Linked DNA regions of Homo sapiens: all the other regions are reported to be linked to region 3. The links are microRNA targets in miRTarBase. Many come from high-throughput screens and were not tested one by one. Region 3 holds a microRNA gene; each other region holds the end of a gene's coding sequence. Distances are from middle to middle.

Region 1 (4,142 bases), 220 Mb from region 3:
CTGCGGGTCACTTTGGGGACAGAATGGGTGTGGGCAGGGGTGCAGAACTGCCACCTTCGACCCCTGGTGGGGGTCCCCGTGCCCCCAGCCACATTCCCTGGGGGGATGAGGTGGGCACTCACTTGGCACAGCCCACGAAGAAGTAAACTTTCAGGAGGCTGTTCAGGACCAAGACTCCAAGGGCCCCGATCAGGCCTGAGGGGGCGGGAGGGAGGCAGCGAGGCAGCGTGCAGGGGTGTTAGGAGGGCAGGCTTCATTGGTAGGGTCAGAGGGGGCGGCCAAGGGGCAGGGGTGTCGGGAGACCAGGTGGGTGGGGTCCACCCTGCACTGCAAAGAGCTGGAAGGGGGCGGGGCCAAGGCAGGAATGGGGCGAGGTGCTCACCTTGCAGGAGGGAGTCAAGGAGGCTAGAGCCCCACTCGAGGGAGGGGAGGCCGGGGAGCCAGGAGGGGAGGGATGGAAGAGAGAACATGGCAGCCCCGGAAGGAGCCCCAGCCTCCGGCCAGGTCTGCGTAAGGACAGACCAACGTCACTGGGCAAAGGTGTCGGTGGAGGGAAGGAGAGAGGCTGGGAGGGGTCAAAGGCCCAGGGGAGGGGAGGGGAGGAGAGCCAGGGGTGTTAACCCTTCGAGGCCCAGAAGGGCAAGGTCCCAGCTCCAGGCACACGGGGTGCCTGGAGCCAGCTGCTGCCCGGGCTCCCCATTTGGGCAGTGTGGGGTGAAGGGACAGGTGTCTCTGGGCTGGTCTCTGGTCTCTGTCCCTGCTAAAGTCTGGCATCCACTTTACTTGAAATCTTCCTTGAGGGAGGACAGGCGCAGTGGCTTACACTTGTAATCCCAGCACTTTGGGAGGCCAAGGTGGGCAGATCACAAGGTCAGGAGTTCGAGACCAGCCTGACCAATATGGTAAAACTCTGTCTCTACTAAAAATACAAAAAATTAGCCGGGCGTGGTGGCAGGCACCTGTAATCCCAGCTACTCGGGAGGCTGAGGCAGGAGAATGGCTTGAACCCAGGAGGCGGAGGTTGCAGTGAGCTGAGATCACACCATTGCACTCCAGCCTGGGCAACAGAGCAACACTCTGTCTAAAAAAAAAAAAAAAAAAAAAAAATAGCAATCTTCCTTGAGGGCTTGAACCACCCAATGCCCCTTCGAAGTCCCAGGCTCCATCTGTCCTGCCCCGCCTTAGGTGTGGGTCCTGTCCTCTTGCAGCCTGAAGTGTGGGCTCTGACCCTTCAGCCCAGGGTCTGAGAGTAGGGACTCTATCCCCCCATAGCCAGAGATCAGCTGTGCCCTCTCAGCCTGAGGTCTGGGGCTCTCTTCCCCCACAGCCAGGAGGTCAGCTCTGCCTGCTTTTTGTAAGGTCTGGTTCCAGCTTCCCAAAGCCTCCGGCTCTGACTCGGTGTGGAATCTCCTGCAGCCCGAGCCTGCCTGAGCCTTCTCCTCCCACAGGCCGGGGCCGCCCTTCCTGATGCTCCTCCCTGGGTCCACTAGGTGGCAGGCCTCACCTGGGTCCAGCAGGGCGGAGCTGAACAGGTGGACCACGGCTCCCATCCTGCTTTCACAAACAGAAAGGGCAGAGGGAGCAGAAGGTGGGGGTCAGGGATGGGGGAGACTGAGATTCACCACAGAGGAGGGTCGTTGAAGTAAACAAAATATAAAACTTTATTGGTTTGGAGTGTGCAGTAGCAGGTGTTCCTGGGAGCGGCCCTTACAGACTTGGGGTGTGGCTGGGAGGGCAGGTGGGGCTGCTCGGCAGCAGTCCTGCCCCTGCCAGGGAGTTGGCATCCATCTCTGCAGTGTGAAGGTCGGTGCGGCGCTGAGAGCACACCCACGGGGAATGGTGCTCAGTCTAGAGAAAGGCCCAGGGTCTGCTGCTGGCCCTGCCACGTCGCTTCCCTTTCCCGGGCCTCAGTCCCGGGAACAATGGGCACCTGGACTGAACAATGGGCACCCGGAGCTTCTTTCAGGCTTGTCAGGATATGTGCAAATGCCCACAGGGCGGGCAGCTGGGAGGCCCTCCGTGAGAGCCCTTAGATGATGTTGGCTGAGGCCAGGCGCGGTGGCTCACGCCTGTAATCCCAGCATTTTGGGAGGCCGAGGCGGGCGGCAAGGTCAGGCATTCAAGACCAGCCTGGCCAACACAGCGAAAGCCTGTCTCTACTAAAAATACAAAATTAGCTGGGCATGGTGGCGCACACCTATAGTCCCAGCAACTCGGGAGGCTGAGGCAGGAGAATCACTTGAACCTGGGAGGTGGAGGTTGTGGTGAGCCGAGATTGCACCACCGCACTCCAGCCTGGGCAACAAAGCGAGACTCCATCTCAAAAAAAAAGATGATGTTGGCTGAACTGCGGCCCCTGCAGAAGTGCATGTTGAAGTCCTACCCCCTAGTAGCTCAGGATGTGACTGTATATGGAGATAGGCTCTTGACAGAGATAATTAAGTTAAAATTGGGCCAAGTGAGGTGGCTCATGCCTGTAATCCCAGCACTTTGGGAGGCCAAGGCCAGTGGATCACTTGAGGTCAGGAGTTCGAGACCAGTCTGGCCAACATGGCAAAACCCCATCTCTACTAAAGATACAAAAATTGGCCGGGTGTGGTGGCACACACCTGTAATCCCAGCTACTCAGGAGGCTGGGGCAGGAGAATTGCTTGAACCTAGGAGGCCAAGGTTGCAGTGAACCGAGATCGTGCCACTGCACTCCAGCTTGGGTGGCAGAGTGAGACTTCATCTCAAAAAAAAAAAAAAAAATTAAAGTGGGGTCATGAGGGTGGGCCCTAAGCCAACATGATTTGTGTCCTTATAAGAGGAGGAGATCAGGACCCAGACGCACATCGAGGGACCACCATGTGCAGACACAGAGAGAAAGCAGCATCTGCAAGCCATGGACAGAGGCCTCAGAAGAAACCAGCCCACTGACACCTTGGTCTCCAGCATCCAGCCTCCAGAACTGTGAGAAAATACATTTCTATTGTCTAAGTCGCCCAGTCTGTGGTTCTTTGCTACAGCTTCTCCAGCAAATAAGGCAGGTGACGACGCCACAGCCTCCTGGTGCACCTCAGCCTTTGCCATGGTACAGTGACCCCTATGGGCAGTCCGGGCCCATGGGCCTGTCACAGTCACGCACTTGTCAAGCGCATAGGTCTAGGGTGAGCAGGGCTAAGCTCCAGTCCTGGCTCTGCCACTTCAAAATTGTGTGGCTGTGGTCAAAGCCCACCACTCTAGGCCTTGGCTTTCTAATGGTAAAAGAAGTAAAAGTGCCTGCCTCGTGCTGCTGTCTGAGGCCTAAGTGAGCCGATGTATGTAAGTTACTGGGCCTATGCCATGTGCACGCCCGCAGCAGTTGCTATAACTGAGCAAGGCTCTGGGATGTGGTGACCCAGTACGCAGTACAGAGAAGGAAGAGAACTGTCTGGAAGACAGAATGGGTGGTAACTTGAAGTGGATGCTCTGGACCTGGGTGGGCCAAGGGGCTGGATGGACCAGAGCTGTCCACACTCTCCCGGGACCTCTGGCAGGGCCTGGGCCCATGGCCCGCCCCGGGACAGCCAGTTGTCCTGGAGCAGGCTCTCACTTCCGGCCAAGTGCCGGCCGTGTCAGGACGTGGGGGTGAGGGCCGTCGTCTAGGTGCCCTTGTGCTGGGCCCGCCCAGCCAGTTTCCGAAGCTCGTCCCAGAAGAGCATGCTGAGGATGGTGTGGGGGCCCAGGCGCAGGTAGGCGGGGCCCAGGCCCTTGTAGAGTGCCAGGGGGCCCTCCTGCCGCCAGATCTTCACCATGCAGTCGGTGAGGCCCCCATAGAGCTGGCCCTGGGGAAAGACATGGGGTGAGTGTTACTACAGGGGCCTTGAGGCCCTGGCTGGCACCACATCTTGGCACACGGGTCAATTTCACCCCCACACACCCTATGGACAGCACCTTTGTATTGGACACACCTGTGAGGCTGCGGCGCCATGGGAAGGCTGTGGGGTCAGGCCTGAATTCCAGTTCTGGCTCCTCCCCTTACCAGCTGGGGGAACTCATGCAAGTCAGTTGATCTGTCTGAGCCTCAGCTTCCTCATCAGGAAGATGAATGTGATTATAAGGATGGAATAAAATCCAGATGTGAAAGTGCTTAGCCTGTGCCTGGGACCCGGGGGCTCAGC
Region 2 (4,177 bases), not on the chromosome of region 3:
GTGGTCCTTGAGCCCAGGAGGTCAAGCCTGCCATGAGTCAAGATCATGTCACTGCACTCCAGCGTGGCTGACAGAGTGAGCCCGTCTCCAAAAAAAAAAAAAAAAAAAAAAAAAAAGGCTTAGGGTGACAATTTTGACATGGGGACAGGAAATTAACATTACACTGAGGTTATTCATAATAAAGGATCTTCTGAGGAATCGGAAATAAACAATGTTGTATGGAAACAGAACCCCAAAACCCCAATAACTCCACCCTCCCCACAACCCACCCCCACTCTATCTCCCCTTCAAAGAGGCTCCAAATACCTCTGGCAAATAATTTCTTTTTCAGACAAAATGAAGAACCTTTTTGCCCAAGAAACTGTGGGCAAAAATAAAACTAACCAATCAGTATTTAAAAAGCTAGACACAGTAAAGACGTGGTTGGGTTTCTGAAGGCTTATAATGGAAATAGTCTCTAGTCTCCAGTCAGGTAACATGCCGCGGTATGACACTCCCATAAGAACCCCCACCCCCCTGCCACCCACTTAGTGTTTTTACTCATAAAAATGAGGGGAAAACTTTTCTACATCAGACAAATCACACAGAGGAAATATTCACATGCAGCTTTAAAAAAGTCCTCTTCAACTGTCATCCCTAAATGTGTCTGACCAGCAGCTTCTGGGAATATACTCTTTAGGTCATGTACAAAAAGGTGTAGGAAGCAAATGTCTATTATTTTTAAAAGATATCAGTGAGTTAATCAAATTAACACCGTTGTTATAGGAACTCAAAGCCATTGGCACAATGTTTCCAGTTTCTCAAATCACAATTGCACAAAACTGTAGATTCTTTAAATCCAGGAATGTTGACTCCTCACCTGAGTATTGTATATCACAATTAATAACCATTAACATTAACTCTGCATTGATAGTCCCTCAATCCTCAGATACATCCACATCTGTTTTGTTCATCCAGATACACGTGCTAACATTTTCAGCTGAGAATAAAATTCAGAGCAACTGTAACTCTTCCTCTTGCATCAGACCAACCGGCAGAAGGGAACGGGATGTCACAAACCAGACTCACGCATCTGGAAAACGTTGTGTGGCTGGGCTGGCTCCAGAAGGAAGCGACGAGGGCCTTCTACCGGCCACACTCCCTTGCTTGGGCTTCCCTAAGCTGCTTTCTGCAGAGGAAAGGGCCAATCACGGCCAGCCAAGGAATACAAGGCCTTGTCAGCTGGACCTTGACTGCGCGTAAGGTCAGTTTCTCAAATCACACCAGCTGGCAGCCAGACCCAGCCGAGAGGACAAAGCAAGGGCTCTGCTAGACCTCAGCAGGAGGAAAACAATGAAACTAGTCACAATACTGCCCAGGCTCTTTACCTGCTTCCCCTCAGGGTGTTTCCTAAAGACAACCCCCAAGGCCCTAGGCCACTGCAACACAGCTACTGTGTGTGACACGCAGCCCCACTCCCTGAGCCCATTCCTGGCCCACGGAACTCCTGTCCCCTAACTGATTCCTCAGGTTAGAACACGGCTTTTCATTTTGCGACTCCAGATGAATCTTTTAACTGCTGAGTACAGAGCTCCTGCCCTAAAAAAGGAAATTTAATGGAATTTACAAAACAAGGCTCTCTAAACCACACACACAGATGGAGTGCCTTTTGAAACTGAATCTCAAACACTCTAAGTAGGGAAAGTTCTAAAGGAATTCATCCCCTGTAATTTGTTTCCCCATGGGTTTTCTTGGGAGAAGGGCAAAGGAATGAATAGAAAGAATTTCACTAATTTCACCCACCAGCATTTTGGCACACAGAAGCCCAGCTTAGGTGGCACTCAATTCTGCCCAACTCATACAGTAGGGCACAGAAAAAAATGACTAGGCTGAGCCTTTTATTCTTAGATCCTCACTTACAGAGAGCTCGAGAAGATTCTTTCCACCCCGAATGAAATTCTAACAGGAGTTTCCACCAAGTAAACCTTTTCCCTGCCTGAATACATCAACACTGAAAATAGGCATCATCTTGGGTAGCTGCCGAAAGTCACGTTTCTGTATTACTTTGCAAGTACGTATTTTGGAAATTCCTGTGCAGCGTGATCTCGGCTCACTGCAACCTCCGCCTCCCGGGTTCAAGTGATTCTCATGCCTCAGCCTTCGAGTAGCTGGCATTACAGGCACACGCTACCATGCCCGGCTAATTTTTCTATTTTTAATAGAGACAGGGTTTCACCATGTTAGCCAGGCTGGTCTTGCAACTCCTGACCTCAAGTGATCCGCCTGCCTCTGCGCACCTCTTTTTAAGTATATTCGGCCACTTCCACACATTGCCTAACAAGCTTCTTCTGGTCAGTGTGTCTGAGATCCTCACCTCAGAAATTCTCACATTAGCAAACCTACTCCAAGGATGCCAGCATGAACCTGAACGGTATGGTCACGTTACAGATCCAGAACACAAAACGACTTCCGCTTTTACAGTTTCAAAGGCCTCAAGGTGGAGAAAAAACTGAGGGGCTGACCTCAACAACTGAAAGAGCAGTGCATGCAGCAGGCTTCAACACGAAGCAGCTTTTCAGTTAAGGTCCTAAAAGTATTATCATTATCAACAGCACAAACAAGTAAGAATGATAGCCCTCCATTGCTTAGGCAGAGAAAACATGAATCTTGTTCTATAATCATGTGAATAACACCATAAATAAGCGCCGTACTTATTGCAGTAACTCGGATCAGGTAGTGATAATAAGGTGGGGAACCACCTGGGGGGTGATCAGACAAATTGTGCTTTTTCACATTATTACAAAGATGTGGGACCCAGAAAAGATGAGACCTCGGGGAAGGGTGCAGGCAGAGAGTGAAGTCTGTGATTCCCAGCATCACAACCTCAAAGGGAAACGTTTAGGGGCCGTGAAGAGGCAGCACTGAGGGTGCAGTTGAAAAGCAGGTGCCTCCTCTTGGACCCTATAAATACCAGGGGCCCTGCAGGCTGAGTCCTGTCCTCAAAGCCCCCTGGGGACAAGGCTCTAAGAGGCGGAAGTGAGTGAGAGGGGTCTGGATTCTGTTAGGCGCTGGGGACTCAAGATTTTGGCATGTTTTTCTATTCCGAGGATGAGAATGACTGGCCCCACAAGATATTTTTATCCCTGTGAAAAGATGCTGTGCCCCAAATTCTGTTTTGGCAAAAACATGCAGAAGGAAGTCAACATAACTGGTATCCAGTTCCTAGGGGTAAGATATTTCAACCATGATCAGTTTGGTTGAAAATTTCAATTCCTTTGGGACAAACTGGTAGTTTCTTTTTGAATTTCAAAAGTAAAAAGCTAATCAGGAGATTTTTTTTTTTCTCTCTCAAAGCTTTTTCAGACCCACTCAGGCACAGGGCGCCAGTCCCTGCCCCGGGGACACTGTTCAAAAGATGGCACTTTCCAGGCTGTAGGCCCACAAAGCCCAGGGGACCGCCGATATCATCACACAGAGAACTCCCGGGTGGGGCAGCAGAGGGGAGCGACCAGCGTACACAGGTACAACAGCACGCATATCCAGCAGGAGGCCATCTTGACCCAGAAGATGGACCAGCTCCCGCTGAAGAAGCTCTCGATGTTGGCACTTTCGTAGCTGTGGAAACAAGACACCTAGCCGCGGTCAAAGCAGGAATATATTGAGATACAATTCACTAATTCACATCCATTTATAATGTATAATTCAACGGCTTTCAATGTATTCATACACAGACTTGTGCTACCATCAACACTACCCATTTCCAAACATTCTCATCACCCCCAAAAGAAATCATGCACCCCTTAGGTGCTCTCCCCTTCCCCATGGCCCCCTCAGCCCACCCCCCGCATTCACCAATCTACTTTCTGCCTCTATGAATTTGCCTATTCTGGACAGTTGATATAAAAGGAATCACATGGTCTCTTGTGTGTGGCTTTTTTGCCTGGCATACAATTTCCAAGGCTCAGCCACGCGGCAGCATGTGTCAGTCCTTCATTCCTTTTTACTGCTAAATAGTATCTTATTGTATGGATAGAGCACATTTTGTTTAGGCAGTCACCAGCTGATGGTCATTTGGGATGTTTCCCCTTTTTGATTATCACCAATGATGCTTGTATGAACACCGCTGTGTAAGTTTTGTGGACCTAGTTTTCTTTTTGTCTTAGGTATACGCTCAGGAGTAGTGGAAGAGCTGGATTAC
Region 3 (4,177 bases):
TAACTTAAAAGAGGTTTCATTTTTACTTATTTTGAATGTTAATAGAAGCTAGTTTTTGTTTCTTATTGTAGATGTGTGTTTATATTAACTCATTATTTTATAAACCAAATGCTGTACTATATTTTTATTTACTCACCACTGTACTAATTAGGGCAATATTTTTAAATTGATTTTTAAAAAATTTTCCCATGTATCCTACATGCAAATAGTGCATGGAAAATACATGTATAGTTTAAAGAACAGTAATAATATGGATACTAGTATGTCTCCACAGTAGCAATCAAATACTATTTACTTAAAACATGTAGTATGTCTCCTCCCAGAAGTAATTATAGTCTGGACTTTTGTGTAATCCTTGCTTTACTTTTCTTCAGAATTGAATTATCTATATTTATATTCCTAAGTAATTTTTATTTTACTTCGTAGTATGTCTCCTCCCAGAAGTAATTATAGTCTGGACTTTTGTGTAATCCTTGCTTTACTTTTCTTCAGAATTGAATTATCTATATTTATATTCCTAAGTAATTTTTATTTTACTTCATTTTTTTAGGGTGTTTTTTTGTTTTGTTTTTGTTTTTGAGGCAGAGTCTCGCTCTGTCACCCAGGCTGGAGTGCAGTGGTGCTATCACGACTCAAGTGACCTCCTGGGCTCAAGCGACCTTTCCATCTCAGCCTCCTAAGTAGCTGGAACTACAGGTGTGTGCCACCATGCCAGGCTATTTTTTGTAGTTTTTGTAGAGATGGGGTTTCACCCTGTTGCCCAGGCTTGTCTCAAACTCCTGGACTCAAGCAATCCAATCCATCTGCCTCAGCCTTCCAAAGTGTTAGGATTATAGGCATGAGCCACTGCACCCAGCCTGTTTTTTAGTTTTTTAAAAATTGAGTAACAAGCATAAGCCTAGTTTTATAAGAAGGCTCAGATGAAGGCTTTCTGAGAATGTTACCTGAATAGAGATTCTAAGTCATACTCTGATTTCAGATTTAGCTTCTCTGAGAGTTTACAAAAGCCCCTCTAGAGAATTCAGTTGGACAGGTCATAAGCCAGTTCTGATAAACCTAGGGGTCCACTACAGTTAGAATATCTGACACATTTGGCTGGGCATAGTAGCTCACTCCTGTAATCCCAGCACTTTTGGAGGCCAAGGCGGGCAGATTACCTGAGGTCAGGAGTTTGAGACCAGCCTGGCCAACATGGTGAAACCCTGTCTCTACTAAAAAAAAAAATACAAAAACTTTGCCGGGTGTGGTGGTGGGTGCCTGTAATCCCAGCTACTTGGGAGGCTGAGGCAGGAGAATCGCTTGAACCCAGGAGGCAGAGGTTGCAGTGAGTCAAGATCACACCATTGCACTCTAGCCTGGGTAGCAACAGCGAAACTCCATCTTAAAAAAAATAAAATAAAAAGAATATGTGACACATTCGCAGTGGATGTTATGTGGGAGTGTGCTCAGTCGTAGTAGCAGACTACTCTATATATATTCTCATTCTAGGCTTATGGTGATTTACCCCTATTTTTCACAAGTAGGTCAGAATGTTTCTGCTGGATAAAATGATGTCATTAGCTGATCTAGGTAGTGGCACATAAGACATGGAAGGGAGAGCTGGAATTTCATTGACACATAGTTGAAACAAGATAAATACAGATTTTAAAATCCAGTCTGGGTCACTCAGGCATTCAAAGACTACAGAGAGGCGGTAGCAGGTAGCTTAATGATAATAGCCTGCAGTATGACTTTCTTTGGAAATAACACTGCTGTAGTCTGGACTGGTTTCCCTCTATATCTGTTGCACAGCTATTTTCCTAGGGAGATCCCATTCTAGGGATCTCCTTTAATGTAGTTCTTGGATTTCTTTGTTTTTGGCATCTCAGGTTCCTCCCCACCCCCATACTTTCATTTTGGTGGAGCACATTCTCTAGTAGCTTCTAAAGAACAAGTGCATGAGATGGAATTTTTAGAGATTGGCTGCATTTAAATATCTGTATTTATTTTTGCAAATATCTTTATTCTATTCATAGTTTGGCTGGATTGGAAGTTTTTCCTTCAGTATTTTATTGGCAGTGTTGAATTGTTTTTTTGCTTCCAGTATTGCTTTTGTGAAGTCCAGAGCTCTTCCAATTCCTGATTCTTTGTATGTGACTTGTTTTATTCTTTATTTTTTGCTTTTCTGTCTCTGGAATCTTTTTTTTTTCTTTTCTTTTTTTGAGATGGAATCTCACTCTGTTGGCCAAGCTGGAGTGCAGTGGCACAATTTTGGCTTACTGCAGCCTCTGCCTCCTGGGTTCAAGTGTTTCTCCTGCCTCAGCCTCCCGAGTAGGTGGGATTGCAGGGGCCTGCCACCACGCCTGGCTAGTTTTTCTATTTTTAGTAGAGATGGGGTTTTGCCATTTTGGCCAGGCTGGTCTCGAACTGCTGACCTCAAGTGATCCACTCACCTCAGCCTCCCAAAGTGCTGGGATTACTGGCATGAGCCACCATGCCCTGCTAGGAATCTTGAATCTTTGTTTTTCGTATCCAGAAATTTAACTCTGAAATATATCTACACAAGGCCAAAGGAAGAGAACAGATATATCCACAGTACACTTGGCTGTTCTCTTTCTTTAGCCTTGTGTAGATATATTTTCATCCCCTGTGATGCCTACTTGCTAGACTCTTTCATTCTAGCAACTTCTGTCTTTCTGTTCTAGGCAGTTTTTTTGAATGATTTTCTTGATGATTTCCTCTCCTGCATTTTACTGTTCTCTCCTTTTTAATTTTTGTTCATTGTTACTATTTTTGAGATGAGGTGTTACTATATTGCCCAGGCTGGTCTCAAACTTCTGAGCTCAAGCGATTTTCCTGTCTCAGCCTCCCAAAGTGCTAGGATTACAGGCATGAGCTACTGTCCCAGCCCTGCCAAATTTTTTTTTTTCTTTAATTGAGACTGTGTTTCACTATGTTCAGCCCAGGCTGTTCTCACACTTCTGGGCTCAAGCAGTCCTCCTGCCTCAGCCTCCCAAGTAGTTGGGTAGCTGGGGTATAGGTGCATGACACTGCACTTGGCTGTTATCTTTCTTTGGCCAGCCATTATTTGATATTATACCTTCTGTAATATACTCTAATATGCTCACCTTTTAATTTCTTGCTTTTTATTAATTTTTTTGTCTTTTTATTTCTTTGAAATTTTATCTGCTTTGTCTTTTAATCCTTTTGTTGACTTTTTGCTGTAATGTTTAAGTTTTCAATGATTTTTTTTTTTTTTTTTTTTTTTTTGAGACTGAGTCTCACTCTGTTGCCTAGGCTGGAGTGCAGTGGCATGATCTCGGCTCACTGCAATCTCTGCCCTCCAAGTTCAAGCGATTCTCCTGCCTCAGCCTCCCGAGTAGCTGGTATTACAGGCGCCTGCCACCGCACCCAGCTAATTTTTTGTATTTTTAGTAGAGATGGGGTTTCACCATCTTGGCCAGGCTGGTCTTGAACTCCTGACCTTGTGATCCACCTGCCTCAGCCTCCCACAGTGCTGGGATTATAGGCGTGAGCCACTGCGCCCAGCCTTTCAATGAATATTTTTAAATTAAACTAGTTTAATTTTTCAAGAGCTCTGTTTTCTGTGTGTTTTGTACCACTCTGTTCTTATAGATGGATGCAATACCTTACCTTTCGGATTTTGATCTTTCAAAGGATTTTATAATTTTTGGTTTTTTCAGTTACCTCTAATTTGCTTTTTTCTGTGTTGTTGTTTTGAGCTCTTCCCTATTAAGAATTTTTTTTCCTGGCTGTCTTATGATTATGAAGGAAAGACTAAACTGATTTGGAAATTGCAAGCATATGGTTGGCACTTGTTGACCTTGAGTTTCACTATCGGGTGATCTGGTTGGCCATGTCCTAGGGAATTCATAATATGAAGTCTTTAGGTCTTTTTCTCTTAGACTAGTTGGCTTCCAGAGAAAAGAGTTCCAATCTCTTGACTGGAGGGTGGTAAGAGAATGGTTTCCAGTGTTCTAGGATCTAGTTGAAGAACAGAGAGTGGGGTGGAGGATTCTTAGTGGTTAGATATGTTCATGAATCCCCCTAATTTCAGCATCGCATCTGTACCTGTGCCTTCAACAGTTGTTAGCATCTCCCAGGCTAGGAGCCCTCTCCTACTGTCTTCAGAGAATAAAGCTCTAGAAGGGCAGTCACCTTCCAACCTGAAGTGAGG

The links. The annotated mature microRNA hsa-miR-4753-5p reads CAAGGCCAAAGGAAGAGAACAG and lies in region 3 at 2,542-2,563, shown strand. An mRNA with a match to its seed (bases 2 to 7 or 8) in the 3' UTR can be bound and repressed. Matches are read on the target gene's strand: a 7mer-m8 pairs with bases 2 to 8, a 7mer-A1 pairs with bases 2 to 7 and ends in A, and an 8mer does both.
Region 1: the mRNA of SLC25A34 is a reported target of hsa-miR-4753-5p. Seed matches in the 3' UTR shown: 7mer-m8 at 2,501-2,507.
Region 2: miRTarBase lists SERINC5 as a target of hsa-miR-4753-5p. The part of its 3' UTR that is shown has no 7-base or 8-base seed match.

The regions. Positions count from the first base shown.
Region 1 is chr1:15,738,888-15,743,029 of GRCh38, reverse strand. SLC25A34 (solute carrier family 25 member 34) reads right to left here. Exons shown (of 5, transcript NM_207348.3): 5 at 1,638-3,806. The coding sequence ends at 3,624. It overlaps TMEM82 (transmembrane protein 82), which reads right to left and starts at 531. Exons shown (of 6, transcript NM_001013641.3): 1 at 383-531; 2 at 123-195; 3 at 1-10. The coding sequence starts at 470. It overlaps SLC25A34-AS1 (SLC25A34 and TMEM82 antisense RNA 1), which reads left to right. Exons shown (of 2, transcript NR_149050.1): 2 at 2,808-2,979. RefSeq lists enhancers at 170-950, 1,352-1,421.
Region 2 is chr5:80,140,217-80,144,393 of GRCh38, forward strand. It overlaps SERINC5 (serine incorporator 5), which reads right to left. Exons shown (of 12, transcript NM_001174072.3): 12 at 1-3,594. The coding sequence ends at 3,447. Among named protein-coding and RNA genes, the nearest start is that of THBS4-AS1, 59 kb to the left of the region's middle.
Region 3 is chr1:235,188,472-235,192,648 of GRCh38, reverse strand. It overlaps MIR4753 (microRNA 4753), which reads left to right and starts at 2,533; the gene lies at 2,533-2,615. The region is part of intron 19 of ARID4B (AT-rich interaction domain 4B); the gene reads left to right.